Homo sapiens: one gene and its partner. The protein of the gene in region 1 purifies or fractionates together with the protein of each later gene. This does not show direct contact. Each region holds a gene or a part of one and is shown on either strand. Other genes may lie near its edges. The genes, in order: LILRB3 and KCTD21.

What was found.
Region 2: the proteins of LILRB3 (region 1) and KCTD21 purify together in Homo sapiens (affinity purification with mass spectrometry, with the first as the bait; 2 studies listed by BioGRID). This does not show direct contact.

Annotation. Positions count from the first base shown.
Region 1 is NC_000019.10:54,215,596-54,220,134, reverse strand, and holds the end of LILRB3 (leukocyte immunoglobulin-like receptor subfamily B member 3 isoform 2 precursor), read left to right. Parts: intron 1-215; coding exon of another isoform or gene 216-266; intron 267-530; exon of another isoform or gene 531-889; coding exon 890-1,006; exon of another isoform or gene 1,007-1,233; coding exon of another isoform or gene 1,234-1,259; exon of another isoform or gene 1,260-1,268; coding exon of another isoform or gene 1,269-1,296; coding exon 1,297-1,372; intron 1,373-1,452; coding exon 1,453-1,490; coding exon of another isoform or gene 1,491-1,721; coding exon 1,722-1,774; intron 1,775-2,657; coding exon of another isoform or gene 2,658-2,660; coding exon 2,661-2,816; intron 2,817-2,895; coding exon 2,896-3,042; 3' UTR 3,043-3,857; downstream 3,858-4,539.
Region 2 is NC_000011.10:78,178,339-78,182,147, reverse strand, and holds part of KCTD21 (BTB/POZ domain-containing protein KCTD21), read left to right. Parts: intron 1-3,809. UniProt on the Homo sapiens protein: Probable substrate-specific adapter of a BCR (BTB-CUL3-RBX1) E3 ubiquitin-protein ligase complex mediating the ubiquitination and subsequent proteasomal degradation of target proteins. Promotes the ubiquitination of HDAC1.

The DNA of each region.
Region 1 (4,539 bases):
GGGGAGCGCCGCCTCCCCCAGGGCAGTCTGAGTCTCCCAAAGGATCCCACTCCCCTCCCCTCAAGGACGGGCTTGTGTCCCAGGGGCTCTGAGGCTGGGCTGGTGAGGGGCGGGGGTCGAGGCAGAGGGAGATGTTGGGGCCCAGCCAGGAGGAGGAGCCGGGCTGATGTGGGGGGCAAGACAGCCCCAGCCTTCACCTCCCTGTCCTGACCCAGGAGGTCCTGAGGACCAGCCCCTTAACCCCCCAGGGTCAGGCCCTCAGAATGGTGAGTGAGGGGCTCTGAGTGGGAGATGGGCGGGGTCCAGGGGAGGCAGGGGTGGGTTCTGTCCTAGGTTCAGGCTCCTCTGGAGGTGGTGATGTGGACAGGCCCCTCCCCTGCCTGGGCCTCAGTTTCTCCAAGTGTAAAGGAGAGAGGCCTGTGGGTGGGAAAGTTCCTTTCAGCTCTGACCCCCAGCTGTGACCTCCTGGGAGAGGAGGCCTCCCAGGGAACCTCCCAGACCCGATTCCACAGGGGCCTGTCCCGTCCCACCTGCAGCAGTGACGGTGACCTGGGGCAGGGGAGGGGAGCAGGGCCGTGGTTCAGGACGGTCAGGCTCTTTCCCTGCAGCTCCGGGTCTCGGCTCTGGTGCAGGAACAAGGGCTGCAGGTCAGACTCCCGGGCTCCCTTCCCAGCTCTGCCGCTTCCTCGCTGGAGGCCTGGGGCAGGCGACTCCCTGCTCTGAGCCTCAGTTTGTGCATCTGTGAAATGGGTTGTACGGGTGGCAATTCCATGTTGCACGACTGCTTGTGAGGGTTGGAGGTCACGAAGGAAAGACCTGGCTCGCGCCTGCACACAGTAGGTGCTCACATCAATGACATCATTCCCACTCCTGACGTCCTCATGTCAAGGTCTGGGAAGATACCTGGAGGTTTTGATTGGGGTCTCGGTGGCCTTCGTCCTGCTGCTCTTCCTCCTCCTCTTCCTCCTCCTCCTCCGTCAGCGTCACAGCAAACACAGGACATCTGGTGAGTAGGGAAGCGGGGGACCCATGGGTCGACCGAGGGTGGGCTCAGGGCACCAGCCAGAGGGAACCCAAACACACAGGGGTGTCAGTTTAGAAAACCGGTTCCAGGGGCACGTAATTTCAATACGCATTTACAAACTTCAGTATTCATGGGAGTTTTTTTCTATCTCATAAAATATTTGGAACATCCATGCAGGAATATTTTTAGTTTTCCTTCTTTCCCTCAAGTTGCATGTGTAGAATGGGAGTTCTAATGTTCCCAGGGCTGAGACTCTGTCCATCTTCACCCAGACCAGAGAAAGACTGATTTCCAGCGTCCTGCAGGGGCTGCGGAGACAGAGCCCAAGGACAGGGGCCTGCTGAGGAGGTAATTCTGCCCCAAAGACCACAGACTCCCACCCACCACAGCCCATACACTGCCCCTCACACTCCCATGTCCTCCTCCAGGTCCAGCCCAGCTGCTGACGTCCAGGAAGAAAACCTCTGTAAGAGGAAGAGAGGGGACAAATGGGGGTGCTGGAGAGACAGGAGTCCCAAAATTTCAGTAGCAACAGGGAGGGGCTGGGAAGGGTCTGGGGCTCCGTGGAAGATGGTCTTGCCCCACACTGTGGGACCTCCCTGCATTCGGTGGCCCCATCTGGGAGCAGGGCAGGGGGCCAGCAGGACTGAGAGGTCTCAGAGAACCAGGAGACGAACCCCTTGCTCTGCCCCAGCAGATGCTGCTGTGAAGGACACACAGTCTGAGGACAGGGTGGAGCTGGACAGTCAGGTGAGATCCCGCCCCGTCCCAGGCACCAAAGGCCTCCTGGTGCCAGATCTAATCCTGCAGGACTTCTCTGTCCTCCTTCCCCCGGCTCTCAGCATCGTCACGGTGGACCCCTCCTTGTCCAGCATGCTGCCTCCCGCCTGCTGTGACCTCACTCTCTTCTGCTGTCCTGGGACCTCGTGGGCCTCCTCCCGGGTCCCCTTCCTGCTCCTCATCCTCTGTTTGGCCGTCTGGTTGTTAGAGCTCTCCCCAGGCCTCAGGAGGATGACGAATAAATGAACCACCTCCGTCCCCTGGGCTCCTCTTCATTCATTCATCCAGCGAGTGTTCCCAGGGAGCTCACTGTGGATGGGGCTCCCCATGGGAGCTGCAGACACAGCAGGGAGCAAAGCCGCCCCCGCCTCCTGAGCTCACCTCACGGTGGGAGACAAAATGCAAATAAATGCATCGTGTCCAGGAGTGCAACGTGCTGTAAGGAACATACACCAGGGAAAGGGCAGAGAGTGTGGGGCAGTGGGGCCAGTCTGAATGGAAGGGGAGGGCTGTCTGCTCAGCTGTCATCTGAGAAGCCTGGACAGAGTGGGGCACATGATCCTCTGATGGACGAGCCCCTGCAGGCAGAGGAAACAGCCGTGCAAAGGCCCCCAGGCAGCAGCGAGCTCTTGCAGGAAGGCCTGTGAGGCTGCAGCCAAATGGGCAAGGTCAGAGTGAGGAGCAGAGGCCAGAACCACAGGGAGGGAGCGGCCAGACCCTCCACGGCCTTAGGGCGTCCCTGAGATTCCATCAGGAAAGGGATGTAATCGGATCACCCCGGGAACAGTGAGGAAAATTGACTCCAGGAGGTCAGGGGGACTCAAGGACACCCCCCACCACTGTCTCTCTCCAGCAGAGCCCACACGATGAAGACCCCCAGGCAGTGACGTATGCCCCGGTGAAACACTCCAGTCCTAGGAGAGAAATGGCCTCTCCTCCCTCCTCACTGTCTGGGGAATTCCTGGACACAAAGGACAGACAGGTGGAAGAGGACAGGCAGATGGACACTGAGGTGAGTCCTTTCCTCTCCAGGCCCCCAGGCCTCCCCCACCCCCACCACGTTCCTTACCTCTCACTCTCCCCCGCTGCAGGCTGCTGCATCTGAAGCCTCCCAGGATGTGACCTACGCCCAGCTGCACAGCTTGACCCTTAGACGGAAGGCAACTGAGCCTCCTCCATCCCAGGAAGGGGAACCTCCAGCTGAGCCCAGCATCTACGCCACTCTGGCCATCCACTAGCCCGGGGGGTACGCAGACCCCACACTCAGCAGAAGGAGACTCAGGACTGCTGAAGGCACGGGAGCTGCCCCCAGTGGACACCAGTGAACCCCAGTCAGCCTGGACCCCTAACACAGACCATGAGGAGACGCTGGGAACTTGTGGGACTCACCTGACTCAAAGATGACTAATATCGTCCCATTTTGGAAATAAAGCAACAGACTTCTCAACAATCAATGAGTTAATAACAAAAAAACAAAAAACAAAAACAGACGTAAAGGCCGGGTGTGGTACTCAGGAGGCTGAGTGGGGAGGATTCCTTGAACACAAGAAGTTAAGGCTGCTGAGGCTGCAGTGAGCTATGACTGTGCCACTGCACTCCAGCCTGTGTGACAGAGCGAGACCTTGTCTCTAAAAAAAAAAACAGTGAATGTTTTAAACTGAATGATAATGTAAATATTATACATCGAACTTATGACATGGGAAAATTAAGAAGCATAAATAGGCCGGGCGCGGTGGCTCACGCCTATAATCTCAGCACTTTGGGAGGCTGATGCGGGCGGATCATGAGGTCAGGAGATCGAGACCATCCTGGCTAACACGGTGAAACCCCGTCTCTACTAAAAATACAAAAAAATTAGCCGGGCGTGGTGGCGAGTGCCTATAGTCCCAGCTACTCAGGAGGCTGAGGCAGGAGAATGGCATGAGCCCGGGAGGCAGAGCTTGCAGTGAGCTGAGATCGCACCACTGCACTCCAGCCTGGGCGACAGAGTGAGATTCCGTCTCGAAAAAAAAAAAAAAAGAAAGAAAAAAAATAAAAAAGAAGCATAACCAGGTGCAGTGGCTCACACCTGTAATCCCAATACTTTGGGAGGGCAAGTGGGGAGGATAGCTTGAGCTCAGGAGTTCGAGTCAGTCAGATCAGCATTGTGAGGCCCCATCTCTACAAAAAATAAAACCAGTCCGGCGTGGTGGCACACACCTGTAGTCCCAGCTACTTGAGAGGCTGAGGTGGGAGGATCACTTGGGTACAGGAGGTCGAGGCTGCAATGAGCCGAGATCGCACCACAGCACTTCAGCCTGGACGAGACCCTGTCTCAAAAAAACAAAACAACTAACAAGCCGGTGAAATTATCTGTTGATTAGTGTTTGCATAATACATTTTTCATCCTTCTGCTTTTTTAATGTGATAAAATATAAACAACAGGCCAGGCACGGGGGTTCATGCCTGTAATCCCAGCACTTTGGGAGGCCAAGGCGGGTGGATCACAAGGTCAGGAGTTCAAGACTAGCCTGGCCAAGATGGTGAAACCCCATCTCTACTAAAAATACAAAAACTGGCCAGGTGTGGTGGCAGGCACCTGTAATCCCAGCTACTAGGGAGGCTGAGGCAGAGAACTGCTTGAACCCAGGAGGCAGTGGTTGCAGTGAACCGAGATCACACCACTGCACTACAGCCTGGGCAACAGAGCAAGACTCTGTCTCAAAAAAAAAAAATTCCAATCTTGTAATCTCTTT
Region 2 (3,809 bases), on another chromosome or scaffold:
TTAGCCCTGGCCAACAGCTGGGGACAAATCTAAAATGTATATTGCTTATTATATCACAGTATCACACAACCCCTCCCCTGAGTGCAAGGCGGTGACTATGCAGACGTGAGACATGCAGTTGCTCTCAGCTCACAAACTAGGCAGTGGTTTCCAAAAAAAATTGTTTTGTCAGCCACAGTATGAAGATACCATGATCCAGTTCATAGACACACAACTGAAACAAAAGTTTCACAACAATATATAATTGGTTACAACCCACTTAACTGTATTGATGTCATGACTTGCCAATAGGTCACAACCTTCATTTTTTTTCCTGTTTATGGAGGTAAAACTTAAGTATGGTAAAATTTACACTTTTTTTTTAATTGAGACAGGGGTCTTACTATGTTTTCCAGGCTGGTCTTGAACTCCTGGGCTCAAGTGACCCTCCTGCCTCGGCCTCTCAAAGTACTGGGATTATAGGCATGAACCACCACAGCTGGCCACAATTCACCCTTTTAGATGTGTATGGTTACATGAATTTTGACAGTCTTTATAAACACATTTGACCACCACCACATCATATTACTTTTGTGCCAACCTAATAGAATATTCCCATCACTCCAAAATATGCCTTGTGTTTCTTTGTAACCAGTCTTTTCCCTCCAACCCAGCCCCAAGAATTCACTTAATCTGATTTCTGTCTTTATAGTTTTGCCTTTGCCAGAACGTTATACAGATAGAGTCATGTACCATGTAACCTTCTGAGGCTGGCTTCTTTCACTTGACGTAATGCTTTTGAAATTCATGTATGTGGTAATGTCTTTTAGTAGTTCCTATATATTGCTGAGTCATATTCTATTGTATGGATGTACTGCAATTTATCTGTTTACAATTAGTTGTTTCTGAGTTTGGGCAATTATGAATAAGCTGCCATAAACATTCACATATGAGTCTTTGCATGGACATATGTCTCCATTTCTCCGGCATAAATACCTAGGAGTAGGGTCATTGGGTCACGTGATAATTGTATGCTGTATTAGTCCATTCTCACACTGCTAATAACAACATACCCCAGACTGGCTAATTTACAAAGGAAAGAGGTTTAATTGACTCACGGTTCCACAGGACTAGGGAGGCCTCAGGAAACTTAAAATAATGGTGGAAGGGGAAGCAAACATGTCTTTCTTCACATGGCAGCAGCAAGGAGAAGTGCCAAGCGAAGGGGGAAACCCCTTATAAAACCATCAGATCTCTTAAGAACTCACTATCACAAGAACAGCATGAGGAAAACCGCCCCAATGATTCAATCATCTCCACCTAGTCCTGCCCTTGACACATGGGGATTATTACAATTCAAGGTGAGATTTGGGTGGGGACACAGAGCCAAACCATACCATATGTCAAACTATTTTCAACAGCGGTTACCATTTGTCAGCAGTGTATGAGGTTTCCATTGTTCTATGTACTCACCTTCAATTGGCATTGTCAGTTTTTATATGAGCCACTAATAGGTATATAGTAGCATATAATTGTGGTTTCAATTTTCATACTCTCATGACTGATGATATTGACCATCTTTTCATGTGATTGTCAGTCATCTGCATATCTTCTTTGCTGGAGTATTTGTTAGATCTTTTGTCTAGTTGTTTTGTTTTTGTTTTTGTTTAAGTAGAGATAGGGTTTCACCATGTCGGCCAGGCTGTTCTTGAACTCCTGGCCTCAAGTGATCTGCCCGCCTCAGCCTCCCAAAGTGCTGGGATTACAGGCATGTGCCACTGCACCCAGCTTTATGTGTTTTTTAATTGGGTTATTTTCTTACTGAGTTTTGAGAGTTCTTTATATATTCTGGTTAACAATCCTTTATCAGATAGGTGTTTTGCAAATATTTTCTCCATCTGTGTCTTATTCTTTCATTTTCTTAACAGTGTCTTTTGAAGAGCAGAAGTTTTTTACGTGGATGAAGTCTAGTTTATTGATGTTTTTAATGGTTTGTCCCTTTTAGGTCCTATCCAAGAAATCTTTGCCTAATCCACAGTTGCAAAGATTTTCTCCTAGAAGTTGTGTAGTTTTAGATTTTATATTTAGGTCTATGATATGTTCTGAGTTTATTTTTCATAAACAGCATAAGAGATGGACCAAGGTTCTTTTTTTCCCCATATGGATGTCCACTGATCTGCATTTTGAGATAGCCAGGGAAGAGGGCCATGTGCAAAGGAGATCGCTGCAGGTGGAATGCTGGGTGCTGCCAGAGGGGGTTGTGCAAGGCACCAGGAAGCCCTGAGAGGAGAGCTGTTAACCTAGTGGAGATCTGGGGACAGTAGTACAGAGGTGATGACTCATAGGCTGGGCCTGAAAGGTAGACAGCAGAGAGGGTAGAGAAGGTAGACAGGGGTGGTCTAGGGACAGCAAAGGCAGGGCAGGTGTCAGCATGAAGGAGACTGACTCAGTGGCGTCTGGCGTGCGTGGAGGGCAGGGTTAGACATGAGAGGGAAAGAGGAAGGTGGTTGGGCAGGGACGGTACTTCAGGAAGGTCAGTCTGCAGACCAGAAAGGAAGGTGGACAGAAGGCAGGGAGCCGAGTGAGGATGTAGGGGTGCAGGGGGCAGGGATGAGGCCTGAGCTCTGGGAGTAGCTATAGGGATGGGTTCAAGGAGATAGTCAAGACAAACTGTAGGGCTGAAGAGTCGGGGCTGCTTCCCTCAGGCAGTTGGGTGGCTCAGAAGAGTTCACAGCAGAGTTAGGGGCAGAGGAAGGCACAGGTGAGGCTTCTGGTACCTGTGTTACTGGTGGAGGGTCTTGACTAGGAATTTTCCAGGTCCTTGGCGTTTTGAACAAAGTAGCAGAGGGGCAGACGTGGTAATCCCCACACTTTGGGAGGCCTGGATGGGCAGATCACTTGAGGTCAGTCCAAGACCGGCCTGGCCAACGTGGTGAAACCCGTCTCTACTAAAAAAAAAAAAAGTAAAAATAAAAAGAGTAGCAGGGGAATGAAATGCAGGAATGAAGCAGTGAAAGCAGGAATTAAAGTGAGAAAGCACTCCTCAGGGTGGGAGTGGGCCGGAGCAAGGAACTCAAAGGCCCAGTTACAAAGTTCTCTGGGCTTTAGGTACCCCATTTGAGGTTCTTATCAGCTACTCCTTATCTGGACGAAGGATTTAGTCTGTGGCTAATTAAAGGCTGAGGTGAATGGGCACCCTATGCAGATAAAGGGATGGTCCCAATCCAAGGCCCCCCTCCCTTTCCACCTGAGACATGGTGGAGTGGGAGGGTTGCAAAGAGGAGCGTTTGATCCTTTGTCACCCAGCTGGGGCGATGGCGTTTTTCCTCTTGGTTCAGCTTTAGGAATTTGGTGTTAATTGGTCTTAGGGTCCCTGCCCCCAGACCCAGGATTTTCCTTCTGATCCAGCTTTGGGAAGTCAACAGAATTGGCCTCAGATTTTTTGCCCCAGACCTTGGTGTTTTCTCTTTTATGAAGTTAGCACAAATTGGCCTTAAGTTCCTTGTCTCCAAACCTTGTTCTCCTGCCTCACTTGCAGAATATCCAAGTGGAGGTGGCCAGGAGGCATCTGGGAACACATAGGGGACTGAGGCTCAGTGGTGTTAGTTCATTACTACCTGACTGCAAACCTCCGCCGACTCATGAAACTCCCCTCGTGTCATGTCATTTTGCCTTTTGTAGCAGGGCCGTGGATTTGTGATGATGGACACTGTGGCCCTGTGGCTAGAAAATAGGGGCTTAGACCAGGCACGGTGGCTCACGCCTGTAATCCCAGCACTTTGGGAGGCCGAGGCGGGCAGATCACAAAGTCAAGAGATCGAGACCATCCT